Linked DNA regions of Homo sapiens. The protein of the gene in region 1 binds, or shares a complex with, the protein of each later gene. Each region holds a gene or a part of one and is shown on either strand. Other genes may lie near its edges. The genes, in order: AAR2, PRPF8 and SNRNP40.

Region 1 (8,105 bases):
TTTCAACCATGGCTGGCCCATCTGAGAGCATCTCCCCACTCTCGCCAACCTATCGGGGCATAGCCCAGGGATGCCCCCAGGCGGCCCAGGTTAGATGCGTCCCTTTGGCTTGTCAGTGATGACATACACCTTAGCTGCTTAGCTGGTGCTGGCCTGAGGCAGGGCAGGAAATCAGAATAGCATTTGCTTCTCTGGGCAAATGGGAAGTTCAGCGGGGCAGCAGAATCAGTGGCATTCCCCCTGGTGCAGGCCGGTGGGTCCACTCCAACTCCCCCTGAGTGTAGCAGCACACTTTCCATACACCAGGTTCTTTCTACAATCCTGGTGGAAAAGCCACAGAACCTTCTTCCTGCCCTTCTTGAGAGTTCCCCCTCTTTCTGGGTCAAGAGCTGGAGTGGTGGCTCCATCCTCTCTGGGCCACTTCGGTCTAGGAACTCATCTTTGCAGGAACCAGGAGTCCTGAGCACACTGAACACACCTCAGAGGGAGGATCCTTGTTGTGGATTTTGCACCTGGCTTTGGGGCAGGGGTGAAGTGACCAGGCTTAGCTTGTGGAGTTTATGGGCCACCAGGGTTTGGGGAAATCACCATCCCGCGGATGCTGTGACCTCCCTTCTACGGAGATGCAGGCAGTGCCACGAGGGAGGAGGGGACCTGCAAAGCTAGAATCTAGGGCACTGTTTCCTCCCCATCCTTCTCTTTGTAGAGAATAGAGACGTTTGTCTTGTCTGTCTTCAACCTACTTTTCCTTTTCTCTTTTTTGTTTCTCATCCTCTCTGTGCCACCTCTCCACCCAGGAGGCCATGTAGCATAGTGGAAAAAGTCCCTGAGGGCGGTTAGGAGTTCTGGGTGACCATCCTGGCTCAGCTCCTAACTCACCATGTGACATCAGGCTATCCCCATTCCCCCTCTTGGGCCTCAGTTTCCCGACTTGCAAAATAAGCAGAAAGAACCAGATGCTCTCCAGGGTCTTTTTCTACTTTGCTATCTCATGGGTCTTCATTTTCTCTTATTTTGTTTTCTCTGGATCTTTTCCATCTGAGGGTACAGGAAGTACCAGGACCTGTTTCAGTTTTTGAATCCTGCAAGCACATTCCAAGACTGGCCTGAAACTGCATGAGCAACATCACTCGAAATAATTTTTTTTTTCAAAAGCACCTTAACAACCAATTGCGATGCTGTCCTGTTCCTTTTTACTCACACCCTTCTCTCCTTTCTCGTCCCCATGCTCCCCCACCTCAGTGCTCCGTGCTGTATGCGTGTGCTCTCTGTTCTTGTATACTCAATATAAGTGAAATAAATGTGTTTGATGCTGAACCATACTTCCTTGGCACCTCTCCTCTCTCTCTCTCTCTCTCTCTCTCTCTCTCTCTCTCTCACTGTCTCTCTCTGACTTTGGCCACTGGTACAAGTTGGCACTGTGGGAGGGGCTAAAACTGAAGTGGAGACATCCCAACTTAGAACATGTTTATGCAACAAATATTTGGAACTCAAGGTGGTCCAGGCCTTGGGTGACTCTCCAGGCACAACACAAACAAGACAAAAGTCCCTGCCCTTCATGAACCCACAGGCTAGTGGAGGAAACAGATGCCAACACAGGCAAACAGTCCGTTACAGAGCACTCAGCACTAGGAAGGAAATACACCGGGAGAAGGGAAGGAGGGTCACTGAAGGAGACCACTTTAAATACAGTGGCCAGGTAAGGCCTCCCTGAGGAGGCGATCTGTGAGCTGAATGAAAAGAAGGATCAATCAACAAAGGCGAGGAACTTTGGTGCACATTCTAGGAGAGGGAACAGTAAGCATACAGGCCCCAGGACGTGGAGGGGCTTATTGAGCGGAGAAACAGCATGGTCCCTCCTCCTGAAAGAAGAGTACCTACATTGGAGTCTCTCTTCCTGTAACCCCCCTACATGGGAGCCTAGTGGGAAAAAATACAGCAATCCTCAACTTCGGCCTTTGCCCAGAACCTCTATATATGTTCCCATATCCTCATACCACCTGTCCCATTATTCACTTATTTTTCTTTAAATTGACTCAGGTCAAGTGCAGTGGCTCACGCCTGTAATCCCAGCACTTTGAGAGGCTGAGGCAGGCAGATTACCTGAGGTCAGGAGTTCAAGACCAGCCTGGCCCACATAGTGAAATCCCATCTCTACTAAAAATACAAAAAATTAGCCGGGTGTGGTGGTGCACACCTGTAATCCCAGCTACTCGGGAGGCTGAGGCGGGAGAATCGCTTGAACCCAGGAGGCGGAGGTTGCAGTGAGCCGAGATCGTGCTACTGCACTCCAGCCTGGGTGACAGAGAGAGACTCCGTCTCAAAAAAATAATAAAATAAAATAACTAACTAAATAAATTGACTCACGTTAAAAGCAAATGCATTTAAAAAGGAAACTATATTACTTCCACAAATGAAAAGCTTATGTTATTTGCCAAGAAAGGAGGTCTTCATAAAATAAATGCAAAAATATTAAAATTAACAACCACAATGCACTTAAAACCTAAACTCATCCCTTGGACCACCTGAGGTGCACACACCACACTTTCCTTTTATTCCACCAAGCAACTCACCTCAGCCCACCTTTATTGCTGCAAATCTCACCAGCGAGTCTTTTCCATGTGTATGTATTTTTCCAGAGTTGGTCATCTTGTACATACTTTTGTAAATACTTTAAAATATATATATGTACATATATGTATATATATGTACATATATATCTATATACACGTATATATATCCTGAGCATTTCCGTATACTTTCAAATACTAAATACTTATTTTCTTTGGAAAGGTAATTCATTAAATGATACAAAGACTATGCAGTGAAAAGTGATTCTTCAGCCTTCTCCAGATTTCTGTCTCTTGTCAGAGGCAATTGCTGCGAGGAACATTATGAATCCTTCTCTGAATTTTCCCTATAGGTCTCCTTTAGCAATCTGTTATCCCTAGGGTTCTGGAATAGGACTTGGTTTACAAACAATGGGTCTTCATATGATTCCTCAGGACCCCATACACCCTGATCCATATTTCTGTCTCCCATAAAGGACCATCCTGACTCGGCTTTTGTCGAATAATCAAAGGTAAGTTCACCCAGATTAGTGTTTTTCAACTGCATTGAGAGTGGGGAAATGACCCCTCCTCCTTTACCCCCAACCCCCGCCCCGGGGACATTTAGCAATGGTTGTCACAACTGAGGGGTGCTACTAGCTCTAGTGGGTAGACGCCAGGGTTGCTGCTAAACATCCTACAATGCACAGGACAGCCACATACAACAAATACTTATCTGGCCCCAAATGTCAATAGTGCCAAGGTTGAGAAATTCTGATCTAAATGGACATGTGACCCACAAGGTGGGACTCCTAGGCCACCATTTACAGCTTCTACAACCAGTGTTCAGTGTCCTGGAGTCTCTGAAAAGACGGTGAGCCCAACTGAAACAGGGAGCTTTGAGACCAGACCATAGAGCTCAGCACTTAAGACTGGGAGTGGGGAGGGGTGGAGAGGGAGCTGAGCTTCTTCATGCAGGAGATGAAACTTGACAGGACAGGCTGAGATTGGTAAGCATGACTGTGACTGATGGAGGCTGTCTCTGGTTAATCCTGCAGCAGCTCATTGTGATTAACCATGACTGCAGGGCCCGGTCTAGTCTGCAACCCACTAAGAGATAAATTTTGACCGAGACAGATTGGCGTGTCCAGCTGTCACTGAGGAAATGTGACAGACAAGCTAAGGAGCAGCAGCACAAGAGATAAGAACAGACAGCCCTTGGTTTGCATTCTAGCTCTGCCATTCTCTGGCTGTGTAACATCTCTTTGAACCTCAGTTTTCTCTTCTGCAAATTGGGAATACACATACCTTACAAGGGTTAGTGCAAGGATTATAAATACCCAAGTGGGCCGGGCACGGTGGCTCATGCCTGTAATCCCAGCACTTTGAGAGGCCAAGGTGGGCAGATCACCTGAGGTCAGGAGTTCGAAACCAGCCTGGCCAACAAGATGAAACCCCGTCTCTACTAAAAATACAAAAATTAGCCAGGCACGGTGGTGGGCGCCTGTAATCCCAGCTACTTGGGAGGCTGAGGCAGGAGAATGGCTTGAACCCAGGAGGTGGAGGTTGCAGTGAGCCGAGATAGCGCCATTGCACTCCAGCCTGGGTGACAGAGTGAGATTGCGTCTCAAAAAAAGAAATACCCAAGTGGCCTGCCCTAAAATCACATAAGCCAATTCTTGGCAATAAATCACTTAATATAGATCTCCTACTGGCTCTGTATCTTTGGTGGAACCCTGATTAATAGTGCAGGGTTAGACCCACAAATAGTTATTTATTAATACCAAATTATCATCATTATTAATTAAATGCATAATATATGTACTCAGCTGAGCTTTTGTGCCTGGCTTTGTGCTCGGTTCCAGGGAAACAGTGAGGAACAAGACAGGCAGATTCCTTCCCTAGTGCGTTGATAGCCTGACTGAGATGTTAGGACTTGGCCTGCAGGAAGGACACGGGGTGATAATGGCCAGAGGGACTGAGGTGGCGACCGCTGCTGCTGCAGCAGCGGAGGCTGACGCTGGTTCTCTCTGGGCTGGTGGCTGGGTTTCTGAGGCTCTCCCCGAGGGCTGAGTGTGACTGGAAGCTGAGACACTGTGACCGGGATAGAGACTGGCTGACAAAGACAGTGACCGAGCGCCTGACTGGCTACTTCTGAATAGTAGCCACTGGTACAAGCCTTGGCTGTGCTTTAGTGACCATGACTGCTTGAGCCCAAAGTAAGATGGCTGGTGGCTGTGTTTCTGGACGGGGATATAAAATGCATAGGTTAATGAAAGTTGTTCACAATTCAGAAGCTAAAACGAGAAACTAAGAATAACAAAAGGCAACCTTGCATCCGGCGGAACCTGCAGGCACGGGCCATTCTTCCCGCGACCCAGGGCTCTGCCGGACCGCTTCCCCCGTCGCTCCAGTCAGACGCCAAAGCTGGAGAACTTCCGGTGCGTTTCCGCTGTACCGGAACGTGGGGCGAGGCGGTGAGTGTGGCCTCCTGGCCTCTTTTTCCTTTCCTGATTCCTTGTGTATGTGTGGCTGGGCCGCCCCTCTTCTCGGCTCAGAGTCACGGAGTGCCTTGAACTAGGCCCACCTCGCCGGGGCGGCTGGTTCTCTGTTTGTGGGACGCTGGTGTCTCTGGAGGCCCTTCCTGAGAAGCCGTCGCCAGAGTTACGTCGCGGTTTTCTTAACTTTAGAGCCTGGGGGCCGGAGACCCTGATTGCACTCGACCTGGCTCTGCCCTACTCTCTGCGTGACTTCCAGTAAGGTCTTTCCCCGAACTGAGGCTTTGTTTCTCGTTTACAAAATGGATATCATACTTGTATTAAATAAATGTTTACTAAGCGTTGAATCTGTGCTAGGGATACAGCAGGACTCAAGTCTCGTGGCGATGACAGCCTTCAATCAAACATCCAAAACTGCAGTTGTGATCATTGAGACGGAAAGGTACAAGGCACCCCAGATTATATCACAGGAGACCTGACCTAGCCCCAGGGCAAGGAACCTTTACTGAGGAGGTGAATATTGAGCTGAGATCAGAAAAAAGGATTTGACAAAGTGGGGAGGGAAGAGTTTTCTATATGGAGACAGCCTCCAATTTCAGGTTCTGAAAGAGGCCGTTGTGGCTGGAACAGAGAGCTTGTGGGGGACCATTGTGTGACACAAGCTAAAGGGGTTGCCAGGAGTCAGACCGTGCAGGCTTTGTAGGTAATAGGAAGAATTCTGGTTTTTCAAGAACCATATGGGAAACCACTCAGAAGCTGACATGGGTGGTGTTGTGATTAGATTGGCATTTTGAAAAGGTTACTGCTGTTGAATGGAGAATGGGTTGAGGAGCAAGCACTCTGAGTGAGGGACGATGGTAGCTTGGATTAGGGAGGTGGTGGAGAGAAGTGGATGGATGTGACTTTAGGTGTTCCAGGACTGTGAGGAACTCACAGAGCTGTCAGTGACAGGGGCTGGTAGACTGCAGAGTTCTATGCATATTTAATAAACGTTTTCCTAGCATCTCCTCTGTGCTAGGCCCTGTGCCAGCTGCTGGAGATATAGTGAATAGAATTACAGACTGGTGGAATTAGCATGAAAGAAACGTCATTATCAAGGAGGAGCACACAGATGTCACAAGGGAAAATGGCTAATTGATGAGCTGTTATTGTAAATGGAATATCTGTTCATTCAGCAAATATTAAATACTTTCTGAATTCAGGATTACAAATAGGAAGATGATACGTATTATTATTATTATTATTATTATTATTATTATTATTATTATTATTATTTTGAGACGGAATTCGCTCAGACCCCCAGGCTGGAGTGCAGTGGTGTGATCTCAGCTCACTGCAACCTCTGCCTCCCAGGTTCAAGCAATTCTTCTGCCTCAGCTTCTCAAGTAGCTGGGACTACTGGCGCACACCACCATGCGCGGCTAATTTTTTTTGTATTTTTAGTAGAGATGGGGTTTCACAGTATTGGCCAGGCTGGTCTCAAACTCCTGACCTCATTATCCATCCGCCTCGGCCTCCCAAAGTGCTGTGATTACAGGCGTGAGCCACCACGCCCGGCCTGTTGATACGAATTATTTAGAGCAGAGTCTTTCAAACTTTTATGACTGTGACCTACAGTAACGAATACATTTTATGGCACAACCAAGTATACACACAAACACACAAAGCTCCAGAAAACAGTACTTAGCTTTACTACTCATGATGTATTGTGATATTTCAAAAATTCTGTTATTTTCGTTTAAAAAATAATGCTGGTTGAGACCTTCACATTGATTTCCTAATCCACTAATGGATTGTGACTTGCAGTTTGGTGAAACACAAAGTGCTGATTCAGGGTAAGAGTCATTTGTGGTGGTTTTGAGGTAACAATGATAAAATGTGCTCTTATTTTTGGAAAAGGATTGGTCTTCCTTTCTGCACTGCTTTATTTAAAGTAAAAAGGGTAAACAGGGCCAGGCATGGTGGCTCACACCTGTTATCTCAGCACTTTGGGAGGCCGAGGCGGGCAGATCACTGAGGTCAGGAGTTCCAGACTAGCCTAGGCCACATGGTGAGACCCTCTCTGTACTAAAAATACAAAACTTAGCCAGGTGTGGTGGCACACACCGGTAGTCTCAGCTGCTTGGGAGGCTGAGGCACAAGAATTGCTTGAACCCGGGAGGTGGACGATGTAGTGAGCCGAGATCACGCCACTGCACTCCAGCTGGGGTGACAGAGCGAGACCCTGTCTCAAAAAAAAAAAAAAAAAAAGTAAACAATTAAACAGGCAGCTCGTTTTTCTGTGTGTGAAATTTTGACGTCTTGGCTAGATTGGAATTGCCTAGAGGGCAGTGACTGTCTTAATCTGTGATGTTTTTTGGGGGCCTGGCAAAGATCCTGGCACAATGCAGGCACTCAGTGAGTATTTGTTAAATTAGTCAGGTAGGTATCTTAGGACTAGAAGGTTGCATAATGGTTTGTTTACATTTGTTCATGTTGGTACCATTCTTGCCGATATCCCAGAGGCAATGTCTGGGATATTCAGAAGTAGGTAAAATAAGTGTACTAAGCTCTTTCTCTTCTGGCCAGCTTTCTCTTCCTAGGCTAGCTTTACCACCTGAATTCATTCTGGATGAATGGTCCAGAGCCACCACTGATTGTGGGCTCTTTGGGAAGTTGTTTCACTCCCTGGAGTTTAGGTTTTTTATGAGTGAAAGAAGAGGGGAGATTTGTGGTAGGAAAGCTCTCTAGACCCTGAACAAACTTTAGATGCTGAGCCTCCACTTGCTACCGTCTGTCCATTTCTGGGCCTTCCCTGAGGCTTATGGGAAACTGGATATGTACTTGATTTAATCTTTCCAAATCTTTTGGGATAGTTTTTTGGCAGAATTGTAGTTTTAAATGATGTAGGCATATAGTTTAGAGTGACCTGTCCAGGCATTTTCCACCCTCACCCTCTGTTGTGAGAAAGAGATCTGAGAAGATATTAAGAATGGACGGTGGACAGAACACTGGCCTGCAGGCAGGGTATCCAGATTCTAATTTGGGTCCTGGTATGACCATGAGCATGTCACTTTTC
Region 2 (7,105 bases), on another chromosome or scaffold:
ATGCTGACAACATCCTAGATGTTGAGCCACTGGAGGCCATTCAGCTAGAGCTGGACCCTGAGGAGGACGCCCCTGTGTTGGACTGGTTCTATGACCACCAGCCGTTGAGGGACAGCAGGAAGTGAGTGATAGATGGAGATACTACACCTGGGAGGAGTTCTGGAAATGCAGAAGGAGTCCTGGGAGATCAGTAGGTGGTATGGGTTTGTCTAGCTGCTTACTTGAGGTGGGCCTTTCATTTTTTACCTAGGTATGTAAATGGCTCCACTTACCAGCGCTGGCAGTTCACACTACCTATGATGTCGACTCTCTACCGCCTGGCTAATCAGCTCCTGACAGACTTGGTGGATGACAACTACTTCTACCTGTTTGATTTGAAGGCCTTCTTTACGTCCAAGGCACTCAATATGGCCATTCCTGGAGGCCCCAAATTTGAACCTCTTGTTCGAGACATCAACCTACAGTGAGTTGGAGAGATTAGGGATTTTAGACATTTTGAGTTGAATGAAACGTAATCTTGATCCTTAAAGTCCTGATATAACTTCCAAATTAGTCTGTTTACACCAGGTGCAGTGGCTCACGCTGTAATCTCAGCACTTTGGGAAGCTGAGGCAGGAGGATTGCTTGAGCCCAGAAGTTTGAGACCAATCTGGGCAAAATGGCAAAACCCTATCTTTACCAAAAAATGTAGCTGGGCGTGGTGACACTCACAGCTTCGTGTAGTCTCAGTTACTTGGGAAGCTGAGCTGTGGGAGGATTGTTTGAGCCCAGGAGGTCACGGCTGCAGTGAACGATGATCATGCCATTGCATTCCAGCTTGGGTGATAAGAGTGAGACCCTGTCTCAAAAAAAAAAAAGTCTGCTTATTCTTGATGTTGTACCCTAGGGATGAAGACTGGAATGAATTCAATGATATTAACAAGATTATCATCCGGCAGCCTATCCGCACTGAGTACAAGATTGCTTTTCCTTACTTGTACAACAATCTTCCACACCATGTCCACCTCACCTGGTAAGAGACCTGGAACACAACATTTGGAAAGGAGAAGGCTGCTGTTTAGGTTGGGCCAGGGCGGGAAAACTTTGGCTGACTCTTCCTTTCATTTTAGGTACCATACTCCCAATGTTGTATTCATCAAAACTGAGGATCCTGACTTGCCAGCTTTCTACTTTGACCCTTTGATCAACCCAATCTCCCATAGGCACTCAGTCAAGGTGAGGAAGGGAAGGGATGCTTTCCCTCAGCTCTTCTAGGAGAAATGCGTGAGGTTGGCTGATGTTACTAAACGCTCAGGTGGAGGGAGATGTGTTTTCCGTCTTGCTAAGTGTTCCCCTTGAGCTATAAGCGAATATGAGAATTCAGCATTTGCTTTAAAACATGTCATTGGTATAATCCTGTTTTCTGTGATTATCCTTTTGGACTTTACGGTTCTTTTCTTGGGTGCTCTAGATAATCTGTCCCGGTCTGTCTCTATTGTGTTTGTTTGTTTTAGCCTTTATATTGAGATGTAGTTAACATACCATACAAGTTATCCATTTAAAGTGTGTAATTTGATGGTTTTTAGCTTATTCTCAGAGTTGTCCCAACTGTCACGACATGCAATTTGAGAATATTTTTATTACTTGAGAAAGAAACCCTTAGCAGTTACTCGCCATTTCTCCCCAACTTCCTTACGCAACCACTAATCTACTTTCTGTCTATAGATTTGGCTATTCTACACATTTCATATGATAGAATGAAATAGAATCGTACACTATGTAGTCTTCAGTGACTGGCTTCTTAAGCTTACCATAATGTTTTTGATGCTCATCTGTGTTCCGTTGTGTCCAAGCCCAGTGTTTGGAGCTTGGGTGGGAGATGATTGCAATGTTGACCTCCTGTGATGTTGGGGCTCCATTGGGAGGCTTTCTGGTGGTCAGCCAGTTGAGGTGTGAGAAGTGACGCTTGCTTTCCTGGTGGCCCTGTCTTGTTCTTTGCTGTCTTGGTTTCCTTTGTGCTGGCACTTCAGGGCTGCTTTTGTCAGACAGCCCAGTTTCCATAGCAGATACAGGCTTTGTGCTTGGCCCCAGAGAATTTCCCTCATCTTAAGTCTGTGCCTAGTTCAGCAGGAGCTAAACCCTTAGAGGGATTCCTTTTTCAGAGCCAGGAACCATTGCCGGATGATGATGAGGAATTTGAGCTCCCGGAGTTTGTGGAGCCCTTCCTGAAGGACACACCCCTCTATACAGACAATACAGCCAATGGCATTGCCCTGCTCTGGGCCCCGCGGCCCTTCAACCTACGCTCTGGTCGCACCCGTCGGGCCCTGGACATACCCCTTGTCAAGAACTGGTAAGGTTTTTCCCTGTGGCAGGGGGAATGATAGTGGATGTGTAGGAGAAAAGACTCCAACTAGGTGGGCATGTAGCCTTTTTTTTAAATTCTTTTTTTTTTTTTCCCATAAAAATGGTAGACAACCCAAGGCTTGCAGCCTTTAGCAGAGTGTCTGGAAGAAGAGATGGCCAAACTCTGGTGGGCTTATTTTTCCAGGTATCGGGAGCATTGTCCTGCCGGGCAGCCTGTGAAAGTGAGGGTCTCCTACCAGAAGCTGCTTAAGTACTATGTGCTGAATGCCCTGAAGCATCGGCCCCCTAAGGCTCAAAAGAAGAGGTAAGGTGCCCCAGGGGCCCTGCGCAGACTTCTGTTCCAGAGATATCAGTAGGCTGACTCTTACTCTCCATGTTCCCACCTCAGGTATTTGTTCCGCTCCTTCAAAGCCACCAAATTCTTTCAGTCCACAAAGCTGGACTGGGTGGAGGTTGGGCTCCAGGTTTGCCGCCAGGGCTACAACATGCTCAACCTTCTCATTCACCGCAAAAACCTCAACTACCTGCACCTGGACTACAACTTCAACCTCAAGCCTGTGAAAACGCTCACCACCAAGGTGCCTGCATTGGACCCTAGGGGCCTCCTGGGCTTCAAGGACGGACAGTTGTTTTCCTCTGGTTACTGATGAAGGCATACATCAGTTGGGTCCATTGCTCATTCACGTTCTGTCTGTTTTTTGCATCTTCTCCAGGAAAGAAAGAAATCTCGTTTTGGGAATGCTTTCCACCTGTGTCGGGAAGTTCTGCGTTTGACTAAGCTGGTGGTGGATAGTCACGTGCAGTATCGGCTGGGCAATGTGGATGCCTTCCAGGTAAGGTTAGGTATTCCCAACCCCTGCCTGGGTGAGGACGCTGGAGGAAGCCTGTGCTGACCGTGGAGCTGGTTTAAGCTCCAGGTCTGATGGGGCAATTGTATTGCAGCTGGCAGATGGATTGCAGTATATATTTGCCCATGTTGGGCAGTTGACGGGCATGTATCGATACAAATACAAGCTGATGCGACAGATTCGCATGTGCAAGGACCTGAAGCATCTCATCTATTATCGTTTCAACACGGTGAGACCTTGACTTTACTGACTTTCTTTTTTTTGAGACAGAGTCTTACTCTTGTCTCTTGGGCTGGTGTGCAATGGCACGATCTTGGCTCACTGCAACCTCCGCCTCCTGAGTTCAAGCAATTCTCCTGCCTCAGCCTCCCGAGTAGCTGGGATTACAGGTGCCCGCCACCACGCCTGGCAATTTTTTTTTTGTTTTGTTTTGAAACTGAGTCTTTCTCTGTTGCCCCAGCTGGAGTACAATGGCACGATCTTGGCTCACCACAGCCTCCGCCTCCCGGGTTGAAGTGATTCTCCTGCTTCAGCCTCCCAAGTAGCTGGGACTACAGGCGCGCACCACCATGCCTGGCTAGTTTTTGAAATTTTAGTAGAGATGGGGTTTCACTGTATTGGCCAGGCTGGTCTTGAACTCCTGACCTCAGGTGATCCACACTCCTCGGCCTCCCAAAGTACTGGGATTACCAGCGTGAGTCACCGTGCCCAGCCTCACTGGACTTAACTTTCTCAGATCTTTTTTCATGTATACATTTAGACAGGGCTCTTTCCAGGGACCTATTTGGAGAGCAGCTATGACTGTGTCCTTACTGCTCCTTTAAATTCACATGGGCGATCTTAGTTCCTGGTTTTTGCCTTAAGGTTTCTCATTTACCCTTTTGTTTTAGATGTTGAGGTCCCAGAGTTTTTTTTTCTTTTTACCCCTCTACTGCCATACCTACATTCCTCTGTATGTATATTATACATATATGCCCCACCTCTGCCCAGGTTTCTATTGTTGTTTAAATGCATTGCTAACTTGTATTCTTAACTTCTGCTTGGGATCGTAGGGCCCTGTAGGGAAGGGTCCTGGCTGTGGCTTCTGGGCTGCCGGTTGGCGAGTCTGGCTCTTTTTCATGCGTGGCATTACCCCTTTATTAGAGCGATGGCTTGGCAACCTCCTGGCCCGGCAGTTTGAAGGTGAGTGGTTTTCTCTGTGTCCAACTTCTCCTGTTATTGCTTCAAAAGTACCTGCCCCTGTTTGAGTCTGTTCCCTGCTCTTGTATGAGCACTCTTCCTACTGGATTGCCTTTAGGTCCAGTTCTGAAATGAGTCTGACCTAGTATTCTATTTCTTGGGCTTCCTTCTGGGGCCTTGAGAGGCAGTCATGCATTTGCAGGAGTGGAAATTCCTCAGAAGCATAGTTGTGAATGTTTAAGGTAGCTCGTCTTTTTGCATATGCTGGGCACAGGGACGCTTTGTTAATACCTAATTTTATTAATAACCATAATGAGTGAGGAGCATGAAGGTAGAGACCCTTATTGAAAGCAAGGAATCTTCCTTGTAATCCCCTTGGGACACTCTACTTCCAGGTCGACACTCAAAGGGGGTGGCAAAGACAGTAACAAAGCAGCGAGTGGAGTCACATTTTGACCTTGAGCTGCGGGCAGCTGTGATGCATGATATTCTGGACATGATGCCTGAGGGGATCAAGCAGAACAAGGCCCGGACAATCCTGCAGCACCTCAGTGAAGCCTGGCGCTGCTGGAAAGCCAACATTCCCTGGAAGGTGGGTGTCTCTTTATTTCCTTGGAGGCGTAAACATCCGTCTTTAGGGTAGGATTACCACTTCGGGAATCATTAGGGGGCTATCTGGCTCCAATCTCTTTTCTTTTCCCTTTTAGACAGGGAAAAGAAGCACCATGTTGCTTAGGCTGGCCTCAAGCTCCTGAGCTCAAGCGATCCTCCTTAGCCTCCTGAGTAGCCGGGACTACAGATGTGTGCCACAGTGCCTGGCTGGATCCTGGCTTGATTGTGCTTTTTGGACTTTTAGGTCCCTGGGCTGCCGACGCCCATAGAGAATATGATCCTTCGATACGTGAAGGCCAAGGCTGACTGGTGGACCAACACTGCCCACTACAACCGAGAACGGATCCGCCGAGGGGCCACTGTGGACAAGACTGTTTGTAAAAAGAATCTGGGCCGCCTCACCCGGCTCTATCTGAAGGCAGAACAGGAGCGGCAGCACAACTACCTGAAGGTTGGGCAGAGTAGGCTGGGCTGGGTGTGAGTGGTGGGGGAGTGGGCAAGAGGGAGGACTGTAGAGTTGTGACTGAACCTTGTTCTGGCAGGATCGGGCTGTAGCGGGAGGCTAATTTCATGTCCACCTTACAGGACGGGCCTTACATCACAGCGGAGGAAGCAGTGGCAGTATATACCACCACAGTGCATTGGTTGGAAAGCCGCAGGTTTTCACCCATCCCATTCCCCCCACTCTCCTATAAGCATGACACCAAGTTGCTCATCTTGGCATTGGAGCGGCTCAAGGAAGCTTATAGGTGAGTAGTAGGGTAGATAGGTTCCTGCTGGGAAGGTGACAGCAGGGAATGGCGTCATCCTCAGAGTCCAAAGAAAGAAGGTGTAGCCCCAGTCTTTCCTGGTTTTACTTCCTCCTAGTTTTCCCATTCACCCTTCCCATTGCTTTTGTCAGTGTGAAGTCTCGGTTGAACCAGTCTCAGAGGGAGGAGCTAGGTCTGATCGAGCAGGCCTACGATAACCCCCACGAGGCGCTGTCCCGCATCAAGCGTCACCTCCTCACACAGAGAGCCTTCAAAGAGGTGAGTGAGGCCTCCCAAGTTTTCTTTTTGGTTCTACCAAAGGTAGCAGTTGCCTTTGGTTCTACCAAAGGTAGCAGTTGGTGGATTGGTGTGAACCAGCCTCCTTGTCCCACAGGTGGGCATTGAGTTCATGGATCTGTATAGCCACCTCGTTCCAGTATATGATGTTGAGCCCCTGGAGAAGATAACTGATGCTTACCTGGACCAGTACCTGTGGTATGAAGCCGACAAGCGCCGCCTGTTCCCACCCTGGATTAAGCCTGCAGACACAGAACCACCTCCGCTGCTTGTTTACAAGTGGTGTCAAGGTAGAACTTTCATGAGATCGCCCTGTGAGGAACGGGGCAGGAATTTAGTTCTACGTCAAAAATCTCATCTGGGTAGCATGATTGGTTTACTCTCTTGATGCGTGGTAGTAAAGGGAAGTAGTGTTCGTGTTAAACTGAGGAAAAGCCCATAGTCAAAGCAATCCAAATGAATACGTGGAATCATAGTGGGATTGGTTATGGAAGGTAATGATAGTTCCTGTGGGGCTAGTCTTGCAAGAGGATTTCTAACCTGCTGGAGACCTGCCTTGCTACTCCTCAGGCATCAATAACCTGCAGGACGTGTGGGAGACGAGTGAAGGCGAGTGCAATGTCATGCTGGAATCCCGCTTTGAGAAGATGTATGAGAAGATCGACTTGACTCTGCTCAACAGGCTGCTGCGCCTCATCGTGGACCACAACATAGCCGACTACATGACAGCCAAGAACAACGTCGTCATCAACTATAAGGTGCGTCTCAGGCGCAGTAGCATGGAATTGTGTGTGGAGTGCTTGTCTGGCCCACTGACTCAGAATTTGCTGAGGAGGAGGCTGGGTGCGGTGGCTCATGCCTGTAATCCCAGCACTTTGGGAGGCTGAGGCGGGCAGATCACGAGGTCAGGAGTTCGAGACCAGTCTGGCCAACATGGTGAAACCCCGTCTCTACTTAAAAAAATACAAAAATTAGTTGGGTGTGGTGGTGGGCGCCTGTAATCCCAGCTACTTGGGAGGCTGAGGCAGGAGAATCACTTGAACCCGGGAAGTGGAGGTTGCAGTGAGCTGAGAT
Region 3 (7,105 bases), on another chromosome or scaffold:
CTAGTTAGAGATGGGCCAAGGTGGCCCAGAGTAGAGTGTCAGAGCACAAGTGTGGTAAGGAGAGCATCCACACTGGGCAGGGCAGTACATTGTAGGGAGTAGTCAGAGAGTGAGGAAGGCATCCATACAACACAGGGTAGGTAACCAGTGTGGGGAATTTGAGGGTGAGGGAGGGGCAGCAGCCCAACAGTGCCCTAATGGGGTGAAAGGGTCGCCTGTACGTGAAGCAGTACGGGGAGAATGTGGATGTCAAAGCCTGAACTGAGGGCATCCACACAGGGTAGAAATGATTTGGTGTAGGGAGTCTGAGACTGAGCAAGATGATGACTGCATGCTTGGAGAAGTGCAGACTGGAAAAGAGCCGTAGCAGAGTGATGAGGGTGTTCACACAGAGGAATGACCCAAGTTGGTTAAGGAAGAGTCACACATGGCTTCAACCAAGAATGGGAATCACAATTCAAGTAGGGAAGGGTGGAAGAGAATATGGGAAACTGGTTGCATGCAGGAAGCATAATCAAATAAGTGAATATATTGAATTTAATGGGAGGCTGATTTCTCTGTCCAAGAACAGAGTTACCAGTACAAAAGAGAAGACTAAAATGAATCTTGTGTGAGGTATAAGTGTGAACTCACAATATTCAATATAGAAACATATAGAAAAAAATAGACATAAATGTGTGAGTGTGTGTGTGTGTGTACCTAAATGTACATATATTGCCTGACTGTCCACTGAAAAGGTTTAGGAGCAACAAGACCCCAATAGCAATAGCACCCCTTACTGCACAGGTACTGTTTTCCATTAAAAGGAACCAGGGCTCCTATTTCAGCCCAGGGGCAGTGAAAGTACAAGATAAGCCTTGTACTTGTCAAGGCTTATTTTGTCAAAAGAACATCCTAACTAAATTATCAAATCGACCTAATTAGTAATGGGACAAGACAAAATCATGAACCATTTGCTAGGATACAACAAAGATGCAGCATCATTTCTGTGATATTCCTACCAAAGATGTATAACTTAAATCTAATCAAGAGGAAACATAAGACAAACCTAAATTGGGGATGATGACCTGTAACTTTCAGAAGTGTTGAGTTCATAAAACTCAAGGAAAGTTTGAGAGAGTCTTGCAGACTGGAGTCTAAATTTAACATATGATTCCAGACTGAATCCTTGTGCAATAAGACATTTGGGATAACTGGTAAAACTTGAGTGGGATTTGAGGATAAAATGGTGATAGTGTATCTGTATTTCTTGATTTTGATGGTTATGTTGAGATGATGTAGGAGAACATCTTTGTAGGACAGACACTATTTAGGAGTGATAAGGGGCCAGGTGCAGTGGCTTATGCCTGTAATCCTAGCACTTTGGGAGGCCTAGGCAGGTGGATCACTTGAGGTCGGGAGTTTGAAACCAGCCTGGCCAACTTGAAGAAACCCTGTCTCTACTAAAAATACAAAAAAGCCGGGCATGGTGGCAGATGCCTGTAATACCAGCTACTCAGGAGGCTGAGGAAGAATTGCTTGAACCCGGGAGGTGGAGGTTGCAGTGAGCGGAGATCACGCCACTGCACTCCAGAATGAGCAACAGACAGAGTGAGACTCCCATCTCAAAAAAAAAAAAAAGGTGATAAGGCATTGGGTAAGCAACTTACTCTCAAATGATTTAGACCAAAAAAAGTGTTCTTTTTACTTCCAAGTTTTCTATAAATTTATGATTGCTTCAAAGTAAAATAATTATTAAAAGTGGTAGTTATCTGGAACTAAAATTCTAAATTATTTTAAACAAACTTTGACTACCATGACTTTTAGGAGAAAGACAAAGATAGATTTGACCTGAGTGAAGTATCTATTGAGACAAAGATTATAGTACAGTTTATAAAATATATAGGATCTAAATTATTAAGGCCTTGAATTCCAGGTTAAGAAGTTTGGACTTGATTCTGTAACCACAGGAGTTGGGGGAGTAGGAGATGTTGGGCATGTAGGAGAGGAGTGAAGCGTTCTTTTTAGACCATTTATCTGAGTAATGAACTAATTTTTAGTTCGTATTTACATGAACAAAGAAGAAACTACTTTTCATCCTAAACCATGAGAATTGGGAGGAAGAGGCATCTTGGCACAGATCCTACTCAGACTCTCCTTGTTGACTACAGGATTGAAGTTAAGCCTATGACCTTCCCTAAAGTTCCATGGCTGATTCCTTTCTTTTTGATGCCAGCCCTTTAAAACTTGGAACAGTCATCCCAAAGTCTCTTTCTTCTGAATGAAACGACCCATACTTTTAAATCATTTACTTGTGGTTCATCTTCTCAAGTGTGTCATTCATTTATTGAAACATCTCTGAGCCCTCTCTGTGTTATCCACGCTTTAAAAAAGTAGAGCTATAAGGGTTTGTTTGTTTAAGAGATGGGGTCTTGGCCGGGTGCAGTGGCTCACGCCTGTAATCCCACCACTTTGGGAGGCCAAGGTGGGTGGATCACCTGAGGTCAGGAGTTCGAGACCAGCCTGGCCAACATGGTGAAACCCCCGTCTCTTCTAAAAATAGAAAAATTAGCTGGGCGTGGTGGCGCATGCCTGTAATCCCAGCTATCCAGGAGGCTAAAGCAGGAGAATTGCTGGAACACGGAAGCAGAGGTTGCAGTGAGCCGAGATGCCGCCACTCTCACCCAGGCTGGAGTACAGATCCGCAATCACGGCTCACTGCAGCCTCAACCTCTCTGGCCCAAGCGATCCTCCCATCTCAGCCTCCCAAGTAGCTGGGACTATAGGCATATACCACCACACCCAACTTTTTGTTTTTATTTTGTAGAGATGAGGAATCACCATGTTGCTCAGGCTGGTCGCTAACTCTGGGCTAAAGCCATCCTCCTGGCCTCGGCCTCCGAAAGTGCTGGGGTTACAGGCATGAGCCACCATACCTGGCCCTCTAAGAATTTTATAGTTTTAGCTCTTACATTTAGGTCCTTGATCCATGTTGAATTAATTTTTGTGTATCATGTTAGGCAGGGGCTTACCTTCATTCTTTGGCATGTGGTTAGCCAGTTGTCTTAGCACAATTTGTTGAGAAGACTACTTTTTCCTTCTATATGGACCATAGTTACTTGCTTCTTTGCATGCCTTATATTTTGTTGAAAACTAGGCATTTAAATATTATAGCGTGGTGACTCTGGAAATTAGGTCCCCAGAGCTGCTTATTGTAGTTGTTTGTTTAGTGACTTTCTGTGGGTTGGGGTAAGGTGAGAGTGGTTGGTTGGTTGGTTTTTGAGACGAAGTCTCGCTCTGTAGCCCAGGCTGGAGTGCAGTAGTGCGATCTTGGCTCACTGCAACCTCCACTCCCCGGGTTCAAGTGATTCTTGCACCTCAGCTTCCTGAGTAGCTGGGGTTACAGGGGCACACCACCATGACCAGCTAATTTTTGTATTTTTAGTAGAAACAAGGTTTTACCATGTTAGCCACGCTGGTCTTGAACTCCTGACCTCAAGTGATCCATCCACCTCGGCCTCCCAAAATGCTGGGATTACAGGTGTAAGCCACCATGCCCGGCCTGTTTAGTGAATTTTTGAACTAATTTTGTAAAGTTTGTATTCTTTGTCCTGTGTGACCACTGAATTCTTTTTTTCGTTAGCTTAGTGGTCAGCTAGTGAATGACACAAGTTTCCTAAATTACCTACAACAACAAGAACAAAAATTCTCCCAGTCTTTGCAGATTGTCTTTTTGTATGTTGGAGCCTGCCTTCAACTCCTTGCCATGCAGTTTACATCTCTCCTTAGCTTTCACTTCCTGCTTGTGCAGAGCCTGAAGGTGAACCAGAGAGCTTACGGCCTTCTCAGATCTTTTCTAAGTATGTGCCCAGCCCTGGACATGCAAGTGGTCTAGATTGCCAGGAATGGGCCAGGCGTGGTGGCTCATGCCTGTAATCTTAGCACTTTGGGAGGGTGAGGCAGACAGATCACTTGAGGCCAGGAGTTTGAGACCAGCCTGGTCAACGTGGCGAAACCCTGTCTCTACTAAAAATACAAAAATTAGCTGGGCATAGTGGCACACGCCTGTAATCCCACCTACTCGGGAGGCTGAGACATGAGAATTGCTTGAGCCCGTGAGGTGGAGGTTGCAGTGAGCCAAGATCGCACCACCGCACTCCGGCCTGGGTGACAGAGGGAGAGTCTGTCCCTAGATAGATAGATAGATAGAGATTAGATAGATAGATAGACACATAGATACATAGATAGATAGATATAGATGATAGAAAGATAGATAGATAGATAGATAGATAGATAGATAGATAGATAGATAGATAGATAGATAGCCTAGGCGACAGAGGGAGAGTGTGTCCCCAGATTAGATAGATAGATAGATAGATAGATAGATAGATAGATAGATACATAGATAGATAGATAGCCAGGAATATGTCGGTGCTTTTCGAAGCTCTTATTCCCCAAATTGTCTCCTTCCCCAGCCCTTCCTCCCAAGGTTTTTGGTTTGTATTTTTGCCCCAACTGTTTTTCCTTGCCCCCAGGAACCAGAGGCTAATAATGTCCTTTCCTTTAAATGTTTTCAAGGGAAGTTCCAAGTTAGGCAAAATAAATGTAAGTCCTTTGGGCTCATCCTTCAGAGAGCCACCAGACAGGTAAAAATAAACAATTTTTATTGTTTATTCTTTGACAATAAGAAATAGGCCCCCTTTGCTTCCTCAGTACTAGGAAACCATACTGGGAATATGGGTTATCTTCAAAGCTGTTGCTGAGCAGGAGACAGAGCCAGCACAAGTTAAAACACTACAAAGCCCTTTTACTGGGACTCAGGGAGTTTTTTGTTTCCTTTTTCCTCATTAAGGGTTTGCCGGGTTACTATAAACTTTTGATTAGTTTTGAGAGTTCCAACAGTTGATTCTGACAGATTTTGCTGGTTAATTTGCTGCTTTCGTGGAGGGACAAGCTTTTGTCATTGTTTATTATACTATTTTCACTGACATACCCTCTATTTTTTTAAATGTGGGTTGCAGCCTACTAATGAATTAGTCTCTACGGTTTGAAAAAATTGTCTGATATCCTTGTTGTTCTAAAAAATATATGAACTAAGTAGTTAGGGGAATTCCATTCTAAGAGTATGTTGATTTAACTCTGTTCACTTCAACAAAGAAGTCTGAAAATATAACCGAAGTTTTGTTTCACCAGCCTTCAAATGTCTTGGCAAAATTGAGCACACTGCTTACCATGTGTGTTATTAGGATATCCAGGAGTTAGTGATATAGGATCCCAATTATAGATGTGTTCATGTCCACAAAGTCCTCGTACTTAAGGGATATTTGTACTGTGCAATTGCTTCTTAGAATGATGTTGCTGATAGACTGTCTTGTCCTTTGCTTCAGCTTTGGGACATCCGGAAGAAAGCAGCCATCCAGACATTTCAGAACACGTACCAGGTGTTAGCTGTGACCTTCAATGACACAAGTGATCAGATTATTTCTGGTGGAATAGACAATGATATCAAGGTATGTTTGATGTTTATGATATATTTCCATTTCATCTATCTGCACTTAGAAACGAATTTTTTCAAACTTCTGAGATTGTGGTAGCTTTGCACTTAATACCAACTGAAAGGAAAATAGTAACTTGGAACTTATTTTCTTTTTCTCCTGTCTTCATTGACTTCCTAAATTAAAGTTTGCATTGCAGATCTTATAAATGCTGTCAGGGACCAGGCACTTAATGTGAAGTGTGAAGTCTCTGTAGGGGGACTATGTAAAAAATAAAGAGTGCATTTCCTTTTAAAGACATTCAAAATCTTTTTTTAACCATCTTGGTTTAAAGAGAGCAGTGAATCAGTTTGTGATTCTGTATCCTCATCTCTCACTGTGTTTTTCTTTTTGACACTATGGAAAGAGAGTTTTCTAAGTTTCTCTAAGAATGAGAGAAGGTAATGATATTAAAGAGGCAATAGACCATATGGCAGTAGAGTGTAGCTCAAACTTTCAAGTAATTGACTTGGGTTCTAATCCCAGTTTCACCATTTTCTAGTTTTGTGACTTCAAGCACCTTCTTTAAGCCTCTTTTTCTTGTGTGAATGGTGAGGGGGTAATGATAAAAAAAAAAAAAAACAGTAGCATCTACCACATACCATTGTGGGGATTAAATGAGCCTGATTCATTAGAGCACTTAGCAGAATTCCTGGACATAACAAGTGCCAGGAAATGTATTATTTTGGGCCTGCACAGCTTCTGTCTTCCTTTCCTCTTGGCTTCCTTGGGGATCTTAACGACTTTGACCTTACCTTCTGCTTTATAGTAAGAAGAGTAACTGTCAGATACTCAACTTTCTGTGTTGTCCTTACCTAGAAGTTGTACTGTATTTCCATCCCTCATTGTTTCCTTTGCTGTTACTTTGGATGAAATATCCTTGCTTTTGGCCAGGTGTGGTGGCTCACACCTGAAATCCCTGCACTTTGGGAGGCCGAGGCGGGTGGATCACAAGGTCAGGAGACCGAGACCGTCCTGGCCAATGTGGTGAAACCTCGTCTCTACTGAAAATACAAAAATTAGCTGGATGTGATGGTGGTGTGCCTGTAATCCCAGCTACTCAGGAGGCTAAGGCAGGAGATTACTTGAACCTGGGAGTCAGAAGTTGCGGTGAGCTGAGATCACGCCACTGCACTCCAGCCTGGCCACGGAGCAAGACTCCATCTCCAAAAAAAAAAAGAAAGGAATATCCTTGCTTTTGTCTAAAGGTAGTCCTTTTTTTTTTTTTTTTTTTTTGAGTCAGAGTCTTCCTCTGTAGCCCAGGCTGGAGTGCAGTGGTGCTATCTCAGCTCACTGCAACCTCTGCCTCCTGGGTCCCAGTTCAAGCAATTCTCCTGCCTCAGCCTCCTGAGTAGCTGGGATTACAGGCACGTGCCACCATGCCCAGCTAATTTTTGTATTTTTTAGTAGAGACAGGGTTTCACCATGTTGGGCAGGCTTATCTCGAACTCCTGACCTTGTGATCCACCTGCCTCGGCCTCCCAAAGTGCTGGGATTACGGGTGTGAGCCACCGTGCCCGGCCTAAAGGTAGTCCTTTAAATGTGAGGGTTTCAATCCTTCGTCACTTCTTTCAACCTCTTCTTTTCTACTT

What was found.
Region 2: AAR2 (region 1) and PRPF8 share a complex: the UniProt entries of both Homo sapiens proteins name them as parts of the U5 snRNP complex.
Region 3: AAR2 (region 1) and SNRNP40 share a complex: the UniProt entries of both Homo sapiens proteins name them as parts of the U5 snRNP complex.

The regions. Positions count from the first base shown.
Region 1 is NC_000020.11:36,231,478-36,239,582, forward strand, and holds the start of AAR2 (protein AAR2 homolog), read left to right. Parts: upstream 1-5,000; 5' UTR 5,001-5,026; exon of another isoform or gene 5,027-5,305; intron 5,306-5,404; exon of another isoform or gene 5,405-5,560; intron 5,561-8,105. UniProt on the Homo sapiens protein: Component of the U5 snRNP complex that is required for spliceosome assembly and for pre-mRNA splicing.
Region 2 is NC_000017.11:1,674,836-1,681,940, reverse strand, and holds part of PRPF8 (pre-mRNA-processing-splicing factor 8), read left to right. Parts: coding exon 1-121; intron 122-250; coding exon 251-463; intron 464-886; coding exon 887-1,012; intron 1,013-1,109; coding exon 1,110-1,215; intron 1,216-2,141; coding exon 2,142-2,332; intron 2,333-2,530; coding exon 2,531-2,650; intron 2,651-2,734; coding exon 2,735-2,924; intron 2,925-3,059; coding exon 3,060-3,179; intron 3,180-3,288; coding exon 3,289-3,423; intron 3,424-4,246; coding exon 4,247-4,376; intron 4,377-4,768; coding exon 4,769-4,965; intron 4,966-5,229; coding exon 5,230-5,436; intron 5,437-5,570; coding exon 5,571-5,734; intron 5,735-5,886; coding exon 5,887-6,013; intron 6,014-6,128; coding exon 6,129-6,321; intron 6,322-6,601; coding exon 6,602-6,789; intron 6,790-7,105. UniProt on the Homo sapiens protein: Plays a role in pre-mRNA splicing as core component of precatalytic, catalytic and postcatalytic spliceosomal complexes, both of the predominant U2-type spliceosome and the minor U12-type spliceosome.
Region 3 is NC_000001.11:31,279,758-31,286,862, reverse strand, and holds part of SNRNP40 (U5 small nuclear ribonucleoprotein 40 kDa protein), read left to right. Parts: intron 1-5,366; coding exon 5,367-5,489; intron 5,490-7,105. UniProt on the Homo sapiens protein: Required for pre-mRNA splicing as component of the activated spliceosome. Component of the U5 small nuclear ribonucleoprotein (snRNP) complex and the U4/U6-U5 tri-snRNP complex, building blocks of the spliceosome.